Linked DNA regions of Homo sapiens: region 1 is linked to region 2. The links come from fine-mapping of genetic effects on gene expression. A gene starts in region 2. The other region holds a variant in brackets. All regions are shown on one strand. Distances are from middle to middle. Region 1 overlaps PPARA (peroxisome proliferator activated receptor alpha). Region 2 holds the start of TRMU (tRNA mitochondrial 2-thiouridylase).

The links. PIP is the estimated chance that this variant, and not a neighbour inherited with it, causes the effect. A credible set is the group of variants that fine-mapping cannot tell apart.
Region 1: its variant is the best candidate, but not a certain one, in a credible set for the expression of TRMU in testis (GTEx, PIP 0.84).

What each region holds. Positions count from the first base shown.
Region 1 is chr22:46,222,100-46,227,319 of GRCh38, forward strand. The region is part of intron 7 of PPARA (peroxisome proliferator activated receptor alpha); the gene reads left to right. Among named protein-coding and RNA genes, the nearest start is that of CDPF1, 26 kb to the right of the region's middle. The variant G/C (reference allele first, on the strand shown) is at 2,420.
Region 2 is chr22:46,332,673-46,337,892 of GRCh38, forward strand. TRMU (tRNA mitochondrial 2-thiouridylase) reads left to right here and starts at 3,042. Exons shown (of 11, transcript NM_018006.5): 1 at 3,042-3,174; 2 at 5,107-5,220. The coding sequence starts at 3,093. RefSeq lists enhancers at 3,080-3,299, 3,132-3,631 and a silencer at 3,440-3,489.

The sequences.
Region 1 (5,220 bases), 110 kb before region 2:
AAGGACCACTTGTTATAGAAAGCCTGTCTTTTAAGGTAGCTCTGGACCTTTTCAGAGGCAGCCAAATTGCCCCTCATGGTTCGTCCCCCACATCCCCGCCTGCCTGGCCTAAGTCCTCCTTCCCCCTCCCCAACAGTTAAATAAGTCTTTGTCTCCATTACAAAACAAATCTCAGAGCTACCTTCAAAGAAGAGCCAGCCCTCAGTTGGTGAATGAAGATACTTTGACATTTTCCTATGAGCATGGTGAAACAGGTTTAATTTGTATTAAATAGCTTGAAGCAATCCTTATTGGGAATTACAAGGTGGAATTTTAGTCACAGGAAAATAAAGCATTTCACAAGCTACTTACTTTCATGAACAAACCAAACCTCTTCTTTACTGAGTCCTTTAATTCTTCAGTGAATTCTCCAATTAAATAGGCCGAGACATTTTAGAAGTTTCCAGCAGACACCCACACTAGGCAGCTCCAGAGGCTTGTCCCAATTAGAACTTTCCTGGATTACGAGAGTGAAAGAAAAGGTAACTTTTAGCTTCGAGTCTCTATCCTGGATATGATTAGTACAGCCCAAAATTGGGATGGCTAAAACTTTTGTTTGCCAGCTTATATTTCTCCCTTGGATTTCAGAATTGAAAGCAGGCTGGGCACAGTGGCTCACACTGTAATCCCAGCACTTTGGGAGGCTGAGGCGGGAGGATCACTTGAGGCAATCCAAGAGTTTGAGACCAGGCAACACAAGGAGACCTCGTCTCTACAAAAAATGATTTTTTAAAAAACTAGCTGGGCATGGTGGCATGTGCCTGTGGTCCCAGGTACTTGGGAAGCTGAGATGGGAGGATGGCTTGAGCCCAGGAGTTCAAAACCAACCTGGGCAACATGGCAAGACCACATCTCTACAAAAAATAAAAACATTATCCAGGCATGGTGGCACATGCCTATAGTCCCCGCGACTTGGGAGGTTGAGGAGGATGCCTTGAGGCCAGGAGTTCAAGGCTGCAGCGAGCCACGATCGCGCCACTGCACTCCAGCCTAGGCGACAAAGCGAGACTCTCTAAAAAAAATTCGAAGCAGAGTTAAGTTGTCTTTCTTCCTAACAACCTGCCCCCACCATGGGGTGCGAATGGGACTCCTGGAGTCCTCCTGCACCTCCCCTTGGAGACCACCAAGCTCTAGGAACCCCATCACCCTCAGCTGAGGGTCACATGCAGCAACTAGCAGGCGGGAATCTGTTTGCATTTTGGCCTTAAAGAAATAAATAATAGGCCAGGCGCGGTGGCTCATGCCTGTAATCCCAGCACTTTGGGAGGCTGAGGCAGGTGGATCACCTGAGGTCAGGAGTTGGAGACCAGCCTGACCAATATGGTGAAACCCCGTCTCTACTAAAAATACAAAAATTAGCTAGGCATGGTCGTGGGCACCTGTAATCCCAACTACCCAGGAGGCTGAGGCAGGAGAATTGCTTGAACCTGGAAGGCAGAGGTTGCAGTGAGCCGAGATCACACCACTGCACTCCAGCCTGGGTGACAGAGCGAGACTCCATCTCAAAAAAAAAAAAAAAAGAGGGCCAGGCGTGGTTGCTCATGCTTATGCCTGTAATCCCAGCACTGTGGGAGGCAGAGGAGGGCGGATTACCTGAGCTCAGGAGTTCGAGACCAGCCTGGGCAACATGGTAAAACCCCATCTCTACTAAAATACAAAAAATTAGCCGGGCATGGCAGTGTGCGCCTGTAGTCCCATCTATTCGGGAGGCTGAGGCAGGAGAATGGCGTGAACCTGGGAGGTGGAGGTTGCAGGGAGCCGAGATCACACCGGTGCACTCCAGCCTGGGTGACAGAGTGAGACTCCATCTCAAAAAAAAAAAAAAAGAAAGAAATGATAGATGAATAGTTTAGGATTGGGGTTCACAATTTGGTTTTCTGTAGAAAAAGAGAACCGGGCACTCTTCCGAGAGTCAGATGCCCTCTTCCACCCACACCCACAAAGCCAGAGCACCGCAGGTACCAGTTTTCAAGGCAACCTCCAACCATCATGTGACTCTTTGTGTTTGATCACACTGTTTGCTCCAAGCCAGGGTTGCGTCCCACCCCATGTCCTTGTCTGCGCACGGGACGCTGGAGGCACGGCCCCCTCCTCCCTGCCTAGCCTGCTGACGGGCTTTCCAGAGCTGGCTCCTTCAGGTGCAGGATACCCTCTCTGCTTAGTCTGGGAAAAGGCCCCGTTGGCAGGATGCCCACCACCAGGCCACACTGCCTGAATCTATTGGCAGAGCTCTGGTTTTGTGGCCAAGGTGGGTAGTGGAAGACCATAGCCTGTGTCCCTTACACATCTCAGAAAGCAACCCCATCTGTGGGCAAGAAATCTGTTAGGGAGACCAAGCAGCGGCCTGGAAACACCTTGATCTCTGCCCAGTGGCCCACAT[G/C]CGGTCGCCGTTTCATCAGTTTCCAGCCTGGGTGACCTCACAGCCCCAGCCACGCCCCACAGAGCCTCAGGAAGGCACACTGACCTCAGGGCCGGCGGCTGACTTCATTTCTGTTTGGGGATGAGAGGCGGCACAGTAAACTGTCCAGGCCAGTAAACTAATGGATTCATACGAACCGTAATGAACGTGGGCTGTGTGCTGGGGAAGGCAGGCTCGCCTCCTCCCTGCAGGGGCTGCTGGGGTGAAAGCAACCCTGAAATGTTCAAAGCCTTGATGGGGAAGCACGGGGGATGGATAGATTTTAATTTCAAAGCAGCCCTCTGGTTTGCTATAAGCGGGGGACTGAATTTCTCTTTGCAGTGGCCAATGCCTTTCTTCTGTCAAGATCAGCTCGTGGCCTTCAGATCAGATGACGCAAAGCCCCATGGCTGAGCTGGAACAGGCTAGAATGCTGGGGGGGGGCCTGAAACCGGTGGGGGAGTTGTGGGAGGCCTAGAATCAGCCAGGAGGCTTGGGTCGGGGTTGGAACCGGCCAGGGTGCACGGAGGAGGCTGTGGGGGCAGGGGGAGGCCGCTGCATGGAGCCGCATAGATGCCATTGCTTGAGGAAAGGTGGGCTTTAGCTGAGGGAAGGAGTGAGGGGTGGATGGAGAATGTCTGTGTCCATCTGGACACTGGGACTGTTTGAGCCCCTGAGATTTCAGAACCGTGGGCCAGAAAATGGTCAGGGCCCTTGGTGATGGGGAAGGGCGCCTCTGGGGAACTCACTGCCCCTTGATTTGAGGGTAACAGGGATGGAAGCAGAGTCAGGGGGCTGAGGGAGGCAATAAAAATGGGTGCTTTTCAACAGTGTCTAAAAACATAAGATGTTGACCTGTCAGGGGTTGAGAATGTCGTCAGAAGACTTTGGAGGAAGCAACAGAAAATGAGACTGAGGGGCTTGGGCAGAGTCAGTGCCTTCTGTGTGATGCACGCTCATGCACAAATGCACGCACATACCCACACTCACACATCCGTGCACACACGGGTACACACACATACACGTGCACCCACATGCATGCTCACACACATGCACCCACAGTCACACATCCATGCATGCATGTGTACACAAACACACCCACACATACACATGCACCCACACGTGTACACAGATGCACCTCCACCCCCATACATGCACATGGACACACACATGCACCCACACGCACACAAGCATCCATGCTCACATGGGTACACACTCACACATCCATGCATGCACGTGTAAACACACACACCCCCACACATACACGTGCACCCACACATGCACACAGACGCACCTCCACCCCCACACACGCACACACACACATGCACCCACACATGGATACACGCACACTCACACATGTACCCACACCTGTGTGTACACACACACATGCATGCTCACACACATGCACCCAGGCACACACAAATCCACATTCACCCATACAGTCACACACATGCATACACACACATACAAACACATGCATTCACACAGATGCATACACACACACACTTACAAACTACACATGTGCTTATACATGCTCACATGCATGTATATGCACACACATACCCTCACCTTATGCACACATGTACCCACACACGTACCCACACATATACAAGCATGCACACATATATATATATACACATGCTCACACGCATACCCACACTCACATGTGTGCACATATGCTCACACACACGTGCACACACATGCTCACACACACACTTACTGTTGCTCAGGCTTAGCTGCTTTGGGCTTAAGAAGCAAACTGCACCTTCCAAAAAATGAGTGTGGTGTTCAGTTAAACAACCAAATAATTCTTTAGCACTGAATATGTGGACTTTAGAAATTCAAACTATAAGGTGATAATAACGTTGTCCTGCTACTTTTTAATCTAACAAACATATCAGAACTGACACTCAGTTCAAATGAAGAAAGTAGGAATTGGGCGTGCCGTGTTATTTTTTCAAAGATTCTCCTATTGCTCCAAATTGTTGGGGATTATCTTAAAGTCTTTGAATAGCTTCAGTTATGGAAGATTTTACCCTCTGAGAATAGAACTGAATTTTAGACAAACCATGAGTCCATTGTAGCTAGACTGGCATGCAAGTTGGGATTAAACAGAGTAAAACGTCTTGTTTAAAAAAATAAGAAAGGCCGGCTTGGGCAACATAGTGAGACCTCCTCTATGAAAAGTTAGCTGGGCATGGTGGTGTGCGCCTGTGGTTCCAGCCGCTCAGGAGGCCGAGGCAGGAGGATGGAGGTCAAGACTGCAGTGGACTGTGGTTGCGCCACTGTACTCCAGCCTGGGTGACACAGCAAGACCCCGTCTCAAAAAAAGAAAACAGAAAAAAGAAAAAAAAAGTTGAGCAAGGAGACTAATTTGTGACATGCAGCTGAACATGGTTTTTAAGACCAGTTTTGAAAGAGGAATTCCAACATTATTCTTAACATTTCAGAAGCCTGGGCATAAGGGTGACCTCCAGGGTGCCGTGTTATAACAGGACTGCTCCTTTCAACAGCTATGACCTTATACCATGTCTTGGGGTGTTGCCTGCCGTGTGACAGTCCAATATTATACCTACTACTTAAGTTTTCTTTAGATTAAAAAATGTGCTTCATATTTTATGCCATTTCTACAAATGTATAGTAAAACATAACCAAGAGAGCTTATTAAATAATTTCATCCAAAGCAGTTCTACCAGTGCTTCACATTTATTTTTTATTTATTTATTTATTTTTGAGACTGAGTCTCACTCTCTTGCCCAGGCTGGAGTGCAGTGGCGCAATCT
Region 2 (5,220 bases):
CAGGCGGCACCTGGGATGTCGTCATCCTGGCCATAACTAGCCTGTAGTGGACCTGGGTGATACACAGGGGCCTCTTGGAGCTACGGAGTACCTAAAATACCATATAGTTAACCAAAAAGTAGCAGAAAATATGTGAGCATGGATCTCAGCCATTTTGCGGGTTGGCTGCAACTGGGACTTAACCTGCCATAACCTTAGATCAGCCTGCCACACCCAAGGAGGGCCTGCCCCCAGACCCAGACTCAAGTTTAGACACAGCCTAAACGTGTACCTCTAAATCTGCACAAACTCAGCTGCCCAGATACTGGATTTCCTTATCTCTTCCGGGAAATGCAAGATGAAATTGCCCTCCTGTTGGGTATTTTCCTGATCCTTTATTCTGAAAAAGTGGTCATCCTTTTCCCCACAGGCCCTGTGACCTCCCTCCTGTCTTGCAGCTCCTCCTGGCACCAGTCCCCAGGGCTCTCCTGTTGGTAGTTCCTGCTTTTCTTCTTGGAAATTCCTCGTGGACCTCGAGATCTTTACCCTAAAATAGTTCTGTTGAATTTCACCCTGGCAATGTAAATTGATAGCTTATCTTCACAGATGCCAGACAATGGACAACTCACCATCAGTCCTCTGCTCACCTGAGACAAATGCATGTCTGATTGCTTCCTCTGCCCTATTGTTTATGTGAAAATGCAGATTCACTGAGCCAGACTAAGGCATCAGTGACTGTTCCTCTACCTGCCTCTCACATGGAGATTGTGTATTCAGTGAAAGGCTGATCAAAGACCCAAAGGAATGCAACAGTTTATCTCTTATCTACCTATGACCTGCGAGCTGCCCACCACCCCCAGTTGTTGCGCCTTTCCAGACAGAACCAGTGTACATCTTACACGTATTAATTGATGTCCTGTGTCTCCCTAATATGTATCAAAGCAAGCTGTGCCTCGACCACCTTGGGCACATATCCTCAGGACATCATCCTGAGGCTGTGTCACTGGCATGTCCTTAACCTTGGCAAAATAAACTTTCTAAATTGAAACCTGTCTCAGGTACTTTGGGTTCATACCACAAGGGAGGGTTCTCATGCACATGTGCCTAATAATAACAACTATCACAAAAGACTGCAAAAACCACAACTTTACACAAAGGCTATCGTAACCTTCCTCAAAAAAAAAAAAAAAACAAAAAACTTCTGTTGCAAGGACATCTGCCCAGCAACTGCTTGTCCAACCCTGGAGTGCTGTCACCCTTGTTATTGATCTTTGTAGCCAAAGAATTATCTCAAAACAATGATGTGATCCTCATTTTCCCTTTAAAAACCTTTGTCTTCCTAGGCCGGGCACTGTGGCTCACGCGTGTAATCCCAGCACTTTGGGAGGCCGAGGCGGGCGGATCACAAGGTCAGGAGATCAAGACCATCCTGGCCAACATGGTGAAATGCCGTCTCTACTAAAAATACAAAAATTAGCTGGGTGTGGTGGCATGTGCCTGTAATCCCAGCTACTCCGGAGGCTGAGGCAGGAGAATCGCTTAAACCCGGGAGGCGGAGGTTGCAGTGAGCTAAGATCACGCCACTGCACTCCAGCCTAGTGACCAAGTGAGACTGTCTCAAAAAAATAAATAAATAAAATAAAAACCTTTGTCTTCCTTTACTTCCCTGAATACCCACATAGCTTATTGTGGCATGCATATTCCCATTGCAATGCCCTATTCACAAATGAACATCTTTTTCGTTCAGAGTCTCCCTGTGCTTTAGGTAGACCTTGTCTAGATGCTAACTCGTAGAGAAGAACTCAGCTTGAATATCACCCCTGGGGGATGACCTCCATTCTCTCCTCCTTCCTTTATTCAGCGAGGTTATGAAGCACCTGCCCTGGGCCAGGGGCTTTTCTGGGCATGGAGTAGGAGTGGACAGAACACAAAACCCCTGTCCAACACACCTCACAGACATTAAGGATTGAGTGCTGAGTATGCTTGGAGTCAAACTGTAAAAGATTTGAAGATATTTATTCATGTCATAGTCCCAGGAGATCCTGAGAACACGTGCTCAAACTGGTGGTGCTACAGCTTTTGGTTTCGTACGTTTTAGGGAGACATAAGCCATAAATCAATACATGTAAGATGTAACATTGGTTCCGGAAAGGTGGGACAACTCGAAGGTGGGGTGGGGCTTCCAGGTCATAGGTGGATTCAAAGATTTTCTGGGCCGGGGGCAGTGACTCACACCTGTAATCCCGCCACTTTGGGAGGCTGAGGTGGGCGGATCCCTTGAGGTCAGGAGTGAGAGACCAGCCTGGCAAATACGGTGAAACCCCGTCTCTACTAAAAATACAAAAATTAGCTGGGCTTGGTGGCGGGCGCCTGTAATCGCAGCTACTAGGGAGGCTGAGGCAGGAGAATCGCTTGAATCTTGGAGGTGAAGGTTGCAGTGAGCCGAGGTCGCGCCCACTACACTCCAGCCTGCGACAGAGCAAAACTCCATCTCAAAAAAATTTAATTAATTAAAAATTAAATTAAATTAAAATACTGTAAAATACTTCGATATCTTTCAGGGCCTGCCATCTGTCATGTCGGTATCCTATTGCTACGGAGAGTCCGCCTAGACAGTCTTAAGTCTGTTTTGACGTTAATGCTGGTCCGAATTCCAAAGGGAGGAGGAGGGTCTAGTGAGGCGGGTCCCACCCGGCCTTTCCCATCAGAGCCCGAACTCGCGGTTCAGGTTCCCTCTAGGACGCCCTTGGCCGAGAGGAGGCCTCCAATGGCTGGCTGGGGGGCTTAGAATTTTATTTTTGGTTTACAGCGCAGAAGAAGAGCAGTGAGGCCGGGGCGCGGGTGGGGAGGGCAAGGCGGCGGCTCAAAAAAAAAGCCAGCCCCTCGCGGCCCGACAGAGTCTCGGCGCCCCGCGGGTCGGTGGAGCCTCAGGGGTGAGCGCAGGCCGGAGACAGGGGAACCCGCCGCGGGACAGGGGAAGGCCGGACGGAACGCGGGTAAGCTGCCGCAGCTTCCGGCCGGGCCACTAGCGCGGACCCTACGGCCGGGGCGGGACTTCCGGCAAGGCGCGGAAGCGGCGGTAGCTGCAGCTGGCGAAGTTGGGCGACTGGCGGATGCAGGCCTTGCGGCACGTCGTGTGCGCCCTGTCCGGCGGCGTGGACAGCGCCGTGGCCGCGCTGCTGCTGAGGCGGAGAGGTGAGGCGTCCGAGGCTCCCGCCCCCCGCCGAGCGAATGTGTCCCCGGAAACCTGTCCCCGTCCGTCGTGGCGTTGTGCACGTCTCCTCCCTCCCTGGGCCGCTGGTTGCGCGCGGGTCGGCAGGAGGATACCCCGTCCTCTGACTTTGGTTCGGAGGCTCCTCGCCCTCCACCTGTGTAGTCGGAGGTGTGCGCGACTGCAGCTCCGACTACCTGGGAGCAGTTCCGCGCCCCTCTCCACCCACGCGCGCCCACCCACAGTGAGAAGCCGGCGGGCCGGGGTGGGGTGGGGAGGGAAGGGTTTCTCACGGATCTGCGGCGTCCACATTCACCTGTGAGACCGTGGACACTGGTGAGGGGAGCTGGGATCGCCGGGCCGGGGGCCTGACCTCTGCACACGCTGTGGCCGCCCGGTGGGAGGTCCTTGTCCTCCCCACTCAGCAGACTGGACAACTGCCGCGCGGCGGGTCTGCTTGTTCAGCGTCTCCTGTGTTCTCCGCTCGCTGGAGGACAAAGTTTTCTCCAGGAGCATTTGCATTTCTTCCGGCATCTAAACGGAGCCCCACGGGTGCTTAGCATTCCTCGGGCCCGGCGCTGAAATGAGCACTTGTTTAACTTCACCTGTGTGGCTCCCCGCGGGAGGCCTCATTCACAGAGTCACGTTTGTGGAGCTCTGCTTTGCGCCATCTTTGGCTCCTGACCTTGGGCAAGTGAATTAAGCCGTCCCCTGTAAAATTCGGCTAACACCTGCCTCACGGGGTGACTGGAGGGATTAGATGACATAGTACATACTGATGAGTACGTGCTCAGCACATACGAGGTACGCAGAAAACAGTAGTGGCTATTAGTTTATATTGTTAATAACCATAGCTATTATGGTAGGTACAGTAAGTGCCAAAGAGAAGGGTAGGCGGACCATAAGCAGAAATAGTTGTGAGGAAGGGAGAGTGGAGGAAAGCATCCTAGAGATGGAGGTGCTCAGCTGAGTCGAAAGAAGAGTAGGATGTCACTAAGCAGAGACTTGGAGGTGGAGGCGGCCCTCCCGGCACAGTCAGCAGTGCAAGCAGAATCACAGAGGCCTGCAAGTGTGGGCTGGTTCTGGCCAGATGGAGATGGAAGGAGAGGAGCCTGGAGCACGTTTAGCCCTGATTATGGAAGATGCTATACCAGGGGCTTTAGACTGTTAGGTAGACATTAGTCTGGTTGATCTGGGATAGGGGTGGTCTTTCGCGTGTGGTGGTGTAGTTTTGACAAAGCTTTGTCATCAAATTTCTGTTGTTTTGGGTACTATATGAAGCCTTCTTCAGCAGTCATTTGCCCTGTCTTTCATTACATTCAGCCTACCTAAACGAACCAGCTTTCTCATACAGGGTCTGCACCTGTGTAGTTTGCTAAGGTGGTGTAGGGCTAAAGTTGGCCTTTCCAATATTTGGGTGAATATTTTGTTACAATCGAAAAGGTAGAAAATAGGTCATAAACTAGGTGGTACAGCTCTTACAAAATATCGAAAATTTTAATTATCTTTATATCTGATCACTTAGAATCTAAGTCTTAGATAGTAACTAGAAATAACTTTTGAAAAGAGTTTCCTTTTTTGATAACTGAATGGTGCTTTGAAAAATTTTGTTGAGTTTCGACTATTCCTTCGTGTATTCCACACACACTGGCTGATCCCCTCCTGCTAGGTATTGTGCTGATACATAGATGGGGACACAAAGATGAGAAAATACCACCTCGTTAATCTTGGGGACTCAGGCACCAAGATGGAAACCGGATCCCTGAAGCCACATGGCAAAGCAGGGACTGCCCGGCAGGCCAGGCACAGAGGCACAGGAGCACAGCGTGTGGGGAACTTCTCAGAGCTCAGAAATCACTGCCGTTTTACCGAAGGTTGATTTATGTATTCTCTTTAATTGACCTTCCCGCCCGCAGGTTACCAGGTGACAGGGGTGTTTATGAAGAACTGGGACTCACTGGATGAACATGGGGTCTGTACTGCCGACAAAGACTGTGAAGATGCTTACAGAGTTTGCCAGATCTTAGACA